Regions from separate parts of the Homo sapiens genome. Here region 1 is linked to region 2. Evidence: fine-mapped expression QTL. A gene starts in region 2. The other region holds a variant in brackets. All regions are shown on one strand. Distances are between the middles of the regions.

Region 1 (5,550 bases), 700 kb before region 2:
ATAGCACTAAAAGCTGGTACTGCAGATGGGAGCAGTAAGCAGGCAAGAAAATCAATGTAGATAAAAGAGCAGCTATTTAGAATAGAGGGTGCAGGTTGGGCCAAAAACAAAAATAGAATAGGAGAAATTCTCTCAAATCTTCTATCTCCCCACTATTGCCACCCCCTAGTCTAAGCCATTGTCATCTTCTGCTTGGAGTGTGAGCCCTCCACTGATCTGCTAACAGACGCTTTGGCCCCCTTCCAATCTGTTCTCCTCCTTGCACTCATCTTTAAAAAACCCAGGCTGATCATAACACCTCTCTGCGTGAAACCCTTTCATGGCTTCCCATTGTGAGATACAGACAAAACTCTTAAGCTCATGTTCAAGTCCTGCTGAGCCAGGTTCTTGTCCCCTTTCCACCTCATTTGCACCATGTTCTTCCTCCTGAGTTGTGTCTCAGCTACGAGCTTATCCTCCTTTTGTCCCTTGTGGTCACCACGCTCCTTCCAGAGACAGAGAATCCGCAACTGTAATTACTTCTGCCTGGATCACTCATCACATATTCGGTTTCTACACTTCCAGAGTAAATGACCACTTCCTCTCAAGGTGCCTCCTTGCCTCCTTGTTTAGATCCATTCCCCAGTGATGGGTCTGCCATACCTCACCTTTGAGGCAGTTTGACATGTTGGACTGTGATATTTGCTTATGATTCTCTCTCTCACTAAAATGTAAATTCCCTGATGGGAGGGGACCTCATCTGATTTGAGTCTCTGTGGTGTTCTCAGCACCTGAAACACAGTAGCCTCTCAAAAACATATGTAGAAAAACAAATAAAGCAAATAATGAGAAATAAGGAAATGCCACTCTAAGACTGCCCAGAGAAATCTTCTCAAAGGCACTGTACTGACAGGACATTGGGAGAGTTTACAAAATAACTTACCTGTGTCTGCTTTTCTGTTCTAGGTGAGCAGAAATTCTATTTTTTTAACTACAACTCTCTAAAAGATATCAGAAGTCACTGCTAATCTGGGGCTTTCTAAATCTCTTTTATTAAAACAGCTTGAAATTCTGGGCAGAAAAACAGTATTTTTTTCTATGAAAGCAAATAATCTTATTTAGATGTTATTCAATTTGGTCTGTAAACCAAGGAATATGCCCATAGTCTATTACACTAACTCAGGAAATCGTTGGTGGTCTTTTGTCTCCCAAGCTGTTTTTTTTTTATTTTTATTTGGCCTTATAGATGTGACTGTGGAAGACAATATGGCAATACAGCATAAAATCTATGTACTGCAAGCAGATTTAGCTGTTTTCTCACCAAATGTTGTTATGTTCATTAAGACACAGCTATCATCAAAACAAAACAAAATAGTTATTCAAGAAGCAGGTTTGAAATACAATCTAGTATTACATTTCTGATAACAAGAATAAATCACAGCTCTGATGAGTTCCATAAATAGATTTTGACTTCCTTTGTGATTTTTGAATGACATCCTTAATTTATTGCTTACATGTGATTTATTTAAAGAGATTGCTACTAATGTATTAAAGACTCCAAGTTTGAGAATGTTTAATCATCTCCCATATCATCCATCACCAAGACAGAATGTTGTGGGAGGGCACATACTGGCTTCCAATCGACCTTCTGAAGGGCTGGAGAAGATGGTGTTTGCTCAGTTCCGTAAGCATCAGCTGTTACCATCAAATGGCAAGCATCGTGCTAGACAAAAAGAGGTATAAGCAAGAATGGTAGAAAGATCATGACTTGAAGTCACTTCTTAAGAATTATCTCACAGACCTGAACTTTGCTTTATTCTCAACGTTGCAGATTAGATTACACCAAGTTGGTACCCGAGGACTGATGGCCTAAAGCGTGTGAAAGCGTCCAGCACAGTCCCTGGCACCTCACAGTAATACAAGTGGACCATAAGTGTTGAGAACGTGAATTTGTGCCAATTTCCCCAAAGTTTATTTTAGGGAGTTTTCTACTTAGAAAATCATATTAAAGGCCGTTTCTCTTATAAGTCAATTTCTCTAAAAATGAAAACTTGCAAATTCATATCTTTTTCAGGGCTTTACTTCCAAAGAATTATGATTTGCTCTGATGAGGGAGATCTTAAACATACAAAACTAATTGCAGACCGGATTTCGCAGTATTCACTGAGGTCCAAAGTTTTAAATCATTTTCATAAATTATAGTGGAATGAAGGAAGGGAAATGATGTGATAGCAGAGATGGTTATTTTTGTGACTTCTTATAAGAAAAGTGTTTTATTCTTCACAATTACTCATCTTTTGGGAGCAGGACCAATCCTTTATATGGGAAAGACAACCAATTATGGTGTCTGATTGGAAGGGCACAGAAAGGTCTCTTTTCTACCCCAATCAAGAAATAGCCTTCTGATTGGTCTGCCACTGTCTCTGACATTACAATTATGATGGCTTGGTCTAAAGACAAAAATCCACTCTAAAAATGCAAGTACACTCTCCAGCAAAGGTAATATTTTATGTATGTACTAGATATTAATGTTTTTAAAAACACTCAAAACTCTAAATTTGCTGATCCATTAACTTGTCCTTGAGGAAATGGGTACCAGAGAAGGTTCCAGTCCCTATAATATATTCAGTCACAACTGGATGACCACATGTTAGTGATATTACAAAGATGGCTGTCGCGCTGACCAAAGCATCACCTGGGATTCCATCAACACTGGTCTGGGCACTCCCTGAGGGCAGGGGCTGTGTTTTCCTCCTGGAGTGTCCCAGAATGTGGGACTCTGTAGTCTTTTCTTTTTTTTTTCTTTCTGTTTTTGCTTTTTCATAAAGACACTAATCCCTTTGTCCTTTTTACTGAAGTGAGAATACACCT[A/G]ATAGATTTAGTTGGCTTGTGCTATTATTTTTCTTTTTAAAAACATCTACTGCTTTTATTCAAACTTGTCTGTATGAGTACATACGATCTCCTATTCTTTGCCATGCTACACTTCTATGCGTCAGACAAATTATAAAAAAATCGAAGTCACAAAATGAGATATGGTTAGAAAAGCTTGACAATGCTGTTATATTATTTGATACATACTTTGAAGTATAGAGTATGAACAGTGTGCCATCTATGCTGTTAGTTAACACCTGAAGAAATCTTATTGGAAACTCACTCTCCAAAGTTGACTCCTGCACATGCTTCAAAATATTGTTTTTCTACCTTCCCCAGAGAGTTTCATTTGCCTGGGGAGGGCCAGAAGTAATTTTTCACTGGGGAAATGATTTGTGTTCCAGGAATGAGATTAGACAGTAACTATAAGAATCAGCCAAACCCAAGAAGACATTTATGCAGCCAACAAACATATGAAAAAAAGCTCATCATCACTGGTCATTAGAGAAATGCAAACCAAAACCACAATGAGATACTATCTCACGCCAATCAGAATGGCGATTATTAAAAAGTCAGGAAACAACAGATACTGGAGAGAATGTGGAGAAATAGGAACGCTTTTACACTGTTGGTAGGAGTGTAAATTAGTTCAACAATTGTGGAAGACAGTGTGGCAATTCCTCAAGGATCTAGAACCAGAAATACCATTTGACCCAGCAATCCCATTACTGGGTATATATCCAAAGCATTATAAATCATTGTACTGTAAAGACATATGCACACGTATGTTTATTGCAAAGACTTGGAACCAACCCAAACGCACATCAGTGATAGACTGGATAAAGAAAATGTGGCACATATACACCATGGAATACTATGCAGCCACAAAAAAGGATGAGTTCATGTCTTTCGCAGGGACACGGATGAAGCTGGAAACCATCATTCTCAGCAAACTAACACAGGAACAGAAAACCAAACACCACATGTTCTCACTCATAAGTGGGAGTTGAACAATGAGAACACATGGACACAGGGAGGGGAACATCGTACACCGGGGCCCGTTGGGTGTGGGGGATAAGGAAAGGGAGAGCATTAGGACAAATACCTAATGCATGTGGGGCTTAAAACCTAGATGATGGGTTGATAGGTGCAGCAAACCACAATGGCACGTGTATACCTATGTAAAAAACCTGTGCATTCTACACATGTATCCCAGAACTTAAAAAAAAAAAAAAAAAAAAAAGAATCAGCCAAACCCTGTAACACATCTCTTGTCAGAGTCCTGAATTAAAAGACCACCTAAATGGAAGGAAAAAAAGCAAGGCTTTACTCCCTGATAGCAGGGGGTGTCTGAAAGGGAAACTGCCCTGTTTTCAGGCAGGTAGCAGAGGCTTTATACATTATAGGCTCAAAAGTTAATCAGGAAAAAAAAAAAAGAAGACAACAAGAATGTGATGTATGGGGCAAGGTAAATTCTCAGTTCTTAGAAGTTGATTGTCTACAAATAAGAAAATTTGGGAAATTACACTCTGTGGGTTCAAGGTTAGCAAGAAAATTGGGCATTTAAGGGAGTCCGGGAGAGCGCATTTTGTGATTTTGGGTTTAGCAAGAAACACTTAGGTTAGGGTCTTACAAATCTTGGTAGTGGTAGTGGTTGTAGTAGGAACTGCAAATTTAGGTCTTATCCCTTTGCATACCTGTGCCATGGTGTTTCAGGTCTGGATTCAGCTTGGTCTTGTGCCCTCTTCCTCCCCTAAATCTGTTACCTGATCTGACAAAAGGACTAGCAGATACTGCTTTCGGAGCATTGTTGAGCTGGCCTGGGAGTTTCACTTTTCATTCCAGGGGCTTGATGGTTTGTGTTAGGAGAGAAGCTGGGGCACCTTAGACTTATCAAAACAAGTGGTGGGACTGATCTTGTGTTTGCCGTATTTGTACGAGTGGCAGAATTCTATCTGAAACTTATAAAAATTATAGCAAAGCATCTGGTGGCAATACATCTGCAGGAGCAGATCTATTGCTAATCACTGGAGGCTCCCTGTGTTTAACAAACAACTTACACATGGGCTTAGGTCAGTTCACAACCAGTCTGGACAGAGAAAGGAAGCGAAGAGATACAGGGTATAGCTGGGGCTGACACCATACTTGGACTATTGGGGTCTTCATAATAACCCTACAAGATAAGAATTACAACCCCATTTTGTAGGTGAGGAAATCCGGACAAAGAGGTTAAGTGATTTTCCGAGGGTCAGAACCAAAGTTAAAATCTGAAATGAGTTCTGTTTAACAGTCTTTTATTCCAAAGCCTAAACACTTTCCACCAGGAACATGTTCCCTCTCATTTTACAGAAGAAGGGATGTTTGTGATTTCATCTTATAGAATAATAGTATATGGAGAAGAGCATTTTAATTTAGCATTCATCCTTATTTTTCTAATATTTGCTCACAATGTAAATGACGCTATGAAAAATAAAGTTATAGTTAATTTCATGTTTGTCAGCTTGTGGAGATTTCCAGATGTGGTTAAAAAGAAAATGTATTATTTGGCTATTTATGGTTTAAAATTTAAGCTCTTGGGGCAATCTGAATTGTTTGGGGTTTACAAAGCCCTTGCTTCTTTCTTGCTCATTTCCACTGGGTTTGAAATTGAGATTATCCAGAGCAGCAATAGCCTTGAAGTATATTTTGTATTCCATCAAG
Region 2 (5,000 bases):
AACAGAACCCCCAAACTGAAAATTAGCCTTGGGTGTTTCATAACTTAGGACCAACTCAGAAATGTAGGCTTTGGAAAGCAAATAACTGTGATCCAATTTTCGGGAAGCAGGTTTGTCTTTTATGGCAAAGAAGAGTGATCCCAGTTTTAATTACAGGCATTGAGTGTCCCTAGCCAAAACTCAGTCTGAGGTGTTTCAGCATGGAAGATCATTTGGGAAAGCTGGGTTTGCAGAAAGCACGAGCAATAAAGACATAACATATAAACAGATATTCTGCACGTAGTTTGCAAAATCTTAACCTCATCAAAAGAAGAGATCAAAATTCTATTTAATGCAATTGGAGATTAAGTTGCAGAGTACAATTTAACTGAAATACAGTACCACATTCATACTTCAAATGGTTTATCAAAAGAAAGACTAAAAAAGACTGGTTATGTGTCTATATAAGGTTTGCTCTTCTCTTTCTCTCTCTTTAATTAAAAAAAATATATATATATATAATATATATGTATATATATAACCAAGGCAAAAAGTAAGAGGTTGATGCTCTCTGTCCAAACCTCTCTTCTCTCTCTTTTTTTAAATATGTGCTTAATATATTCCTATCTTCCCAATATTTTAATTAAGAACAATGTTTGCACACATTTAAATGAGTGACATCTTTGCTTAAATTTGTTTTTGACTAATTATTTTCCACGTGTTTTCACCTTCCAACACTACCTTAGTCCTAAGTTATGAAATACTCAATGCTCTTCATAAAATATCTTGAAATAACTTTTTATTTCAAAATTAAAATTAAATCACATAAAAGTATGTTCTTAAATAGACTATAGTTTTCTTAGATCTTGTTGAGATTAAAAACAAGTGTGATCTGGCCCTGGCCGGGGGTGGTGGCTCACGCCTGTAATCCCAGCACTTTTGGAGGCCGAGGCAGGTGGATCAGGAGGTCAGGAGATCGAGACCATCCTGGCTAACACGGTGAAACACCGCCTCTACTAAAAACTACAAAAAAATTAGCCGGGCGTGTTGGTGGGTTCCTGTAGTCCCAGCTACTCAGGAGGCTGAGGCAGGAGAAATGCTTGAATCCAAGAGTTCGAGGTTGCAGTGAGCCGAGATCGCACCACTCCACTCCAGCCTGGCGACAGAGCGAGACTCCGTCTCAAAATAAATAAATAAATAAATGAATAAATAAACAAATTACCTTTAACTTAGTATGACCATTTTGGATTGCTGTAAAATATTCCATAAAATAGTAAGAGCCTTCAAATGTAACTTAGAGTAAATGGGCAAATATTATTTTTCCTATTTACAGAGATATCTAATAGCCCAAACAAATATTTGAAATCAAAGTTATATTTGAATGCATTTCTGAATAGATGAAGGGATAAACAGATAGTAATATAAAGGAGTTCTGCAATGCTATGTCTATAGACCTCATGCCAAAAATGGGGACATGAGTCAAGTCTACCTAACATGTTTCTATTTTCTAAAAAAAAAAATTTAAGTACTTTAAATGCTTATGCTTTGAATAAGAATAATTGCCATTTCAAAAAATGTAACTAAATATGTATGCATGCATCTGTGTGTATACAGAGACAAGCAGTGATTTATAATTTTGAGAAATACGATATTCTGATTCTGATTAAAATAGCTAAAATTCACAAATTCAAAGTTGTGAAACTAAAAAAGAAATTTTTTTAGACTTGTGGATTAAAATCTTGGCATTCTACTCATTTAACTGTATTTATCTATGGCATTTTCATTTGGCATAATTTTCATATATTTTGTAATAATATCACATTGGCTGCATAATATGAAGTCCCTTGAAAGAAACTAGATTTCAATTCTGTGGAAGAAATAATTTATGATGTAAGAGTTGTGATTATACAGCCAATATGAGTTAATTCTTTAAAAAAAAAAACTAAATTGATCAAGCAAAAAAATGTACTCACTTGTTTGAGAATGTCAATCATTTTCAATTAAATTATCTAGATGTTTCCCAGGTTTCAGCTGATATATTTTTCTTAGGAAATAATATTTTATCTCATTAAATTATTTCTCTTGAATACAAAAAATCTTTATTTAGCCATCAGACCAAAAATAAATAAATAAATAGGGACAGCTCAGAAGGAGTGAGCATAGTTCTTTCTCTTCCAAACATACAGGTGGAACGTATAGTGCTAACAGGGAATATTCTGTGACATCATAATTTTGGGCACTGAATTTTGATTGCAGTGTGTTCTTCAGAGTCAGGCACCTCCAAGTCTGCCTCTTAATACTGCCAGCTGATGCCTCTAAGCCTCAGTTTTCACATCAGCCAATGTGACCACTATTACATACGTCATTGTGCTACTGTCAGGATGACATAAAGATGCTGCATAGAACACGTTTAGCCCAAAGCCTGGCACGTGATAAGAATACAATAAACTATACCTATAGTCAGGGCAACAGAAAGACAAGAATTGATATGGTCAAAATCATAAACCCTCTTTTTGTCCTACGGAAGGCACAGGCAAGAATTTGGATGACACATGGTGGTGCTTCTGCCCTTACTAGTGACCTAAAACCAATCTGCCAAAGTATAATGATTGAGTTTTGCAGAACTGTTGCTAAGAGATATATAGGTGTATATGTACATGTATACGTATATAAACATATACACACACCTATGTATATATAAGCCATATCTACACACCTATGTATATATAAGCCATATCTACGCACCTATGTATATATAAGCCATATCTACGCACCTATGTATATATAAGCCATATCTACGCACCTATGTATATATAAGCCATATCTACACACCTATGTATATATAAGCCATATCTACACACCTATGTATATATATAGGCCATATCTACACACCTATGTATATATAAGACATATCTACACACCTATGTATATATAAGCCATGTCTACACACCTATGTATATATAAGCCATGTCTACACACCTATGTATATAAAAGACATGTCTACACACCTATGTATATAAAAGACATATCTACACACCTATGTATATATAAGCCATATCTACACACCTATGTATATATAAGCCATATCTACACACCTATGTACATATCAGCCATATCTACACACCTATGTATATATAAGCCATATCTACGCACCTATGTATATATAAGACATATCTACGCACCTATGTATATATAAGCCATATCTACGCACCTATGTATATATAAGCCATATCTACGCACCTATGTATATATAAGCCATATCTAAGCACCTATGTATATATAAGCCATATCTACACACCTATGTATATATATAGGCCATATCTACACACCTATGTATATATAAGACATATCTACACACCTATGTATATATAAGCCATGTCTACGCACCTATGTATATATAAGCCATGTCTACGCACCTATGTATATATAAGCCATGTCTACACACCTATGTATATATAAGCCATGTCTACACACCTATGTATATATAAGCCATGTCTACACACCTATGTATATAAAAGACATATCTACACAACTATGTATATATAAGCCATATCTACACACCTATGTATATATAAGCCATATCTACACACCTATGTATATATAAGCCATATCTACACACCTATGTATATAAAAGACATATCTACACACCTATGTATATAAAAGACATATCTACACACCTATGTACATATCAGCCATATCTACACACCTATGTATATATAAGCCATATCTACACACCTATGTATATATAAGCCATATCTACACACCTATGTATATATAAGACATATCTACACACCTATGTATATATAAGCCATATCTACACACCTATGTATATATAGGACATATCTACATACCTATGTATATATAGGACATATCTACACACCTATGTGTATATAGGACATATCTACACACCTATGTATATATATAGGCCATATCTACACACCTATGTATATATAAGACATATCTACACACCTATGTATATATAAGCCATATCTACACACCTATGTATATATAAGACATATCTACACACCTATTTATATATAAGCCATATTTACACACCTATGTATATATAAGACATATCTACACACCTATGTATATATAAGACATATACCCACAGCGATTTTCTATCACGTTCGTTTTTAATCAAATAATATTAGTCAAAAATAAATACGTGTTTGTTTTATTATTCCTTTGCTTAGTTCCTGCCAGTACTAGCTGGCTTTTCTAGTGGAAGGCTGATCACTTTTTCCATAAATCCATTTAATCCAATCAGTCTTGGCAGGATTGAGACATGTTCTCAGTGGAGGTCAAGATCTTGTTTCCTGGTCACTAAGAGCATGGGATAATAGTAAACTCCAGAACCATTTGTAAAATACTGTCAGTCAGACAAATCCAAATACCTGTCATGTGCCCAGTAAGTTATTGAACTTTAAGAGAATAAAGTATGACCCTTATTATTGTGTTTCTAATCTTCTCAGAAAGGGAAAAAAGACTATATATAATTAGTGCTCAGCTGTACAATTCAGCATATAAGTAGAAATTATTTCACTATGAAATCAGATAATTGAGACAAAATTTTAGATTGAGTGAGTAATAATAGCCTTATCTTCTTTTGCCCTTTATCCTCTTCCCACATTTAAACTAGGAAGAGAAATGAAACAAGTCACCTGTGGATGTTATTGGAGAGTATTGGATATGATTCTTTGCTCTTACCTGGTGCTCTTTCACCCCACCCCTAACTTTCTCCTTAACTCTCTGGCAATTCCATGCAAGGCCACCTAAAATACCCCTTTCTCAATAAAGATTTTCCTGAATTCCCACCTAAAAATAATTTCTTCCTTCTCTGCCTTTCATAGCACTTTATGTGTGCTGCTCCATTTGTGACCCATGTGTATTCTGTTTTAGTTATTTATCAGGGGAAATTCAGCCAGATATCGGGCAAAATTCACCCTCGATATTTCATGTAGGTTCTTTTCTGTTTTCCCTAAGCATTGGCCAGTTTGGGAAATAAAGGGACAGAGTAC

Which allele goes with the higher level. Positions count from the first base shown, and alleles are read on the strand shown. Sizes are in standard deviations (SD) of each study's normalised expression.
For the expression in CD4 T cells of the gene that starts at base 2,176 in region 2, allele A in region 1 goes with a lower level than allele G (large effect, 1.7 SD a copy in CEDAR).

Evidence for each region. PIP is the estimated chance that this variant, and not a neighbour inherited with it, causes the effect.
Region 1: its variant is the best candidate, but not a certain one, in a credible set for the expression of DPP10-AS3 in CD4 T cells (CEDAR, PIP 0.67).

What each region holds. Positions count from the first base shown.
Region 1 is chr2:114,128,510-114,134,059 of GRCh38, forward strand. No RefSeq gene overlaps it. Among named protein-coding and RNA genes, the nearest start is that of LINC02992, 150 kb to the left of the region's middle. The variant A/G (reference allele first, on the strand shown) is at 2,851.
Region 2 is chr2:114,831,373-114,836,372 of GRCh38, forward strand. It overlaps DPP10-AS3 (DPP10 antisense RNA 3), which reads right to left and starts at 2,176. Exons shown (of 2, transcript NR_132105.1): 1 at 1,953-2,176. The region is part of intron 1 of DPP10 (dipeptidyl peptidase like 10); the gene reads left to right.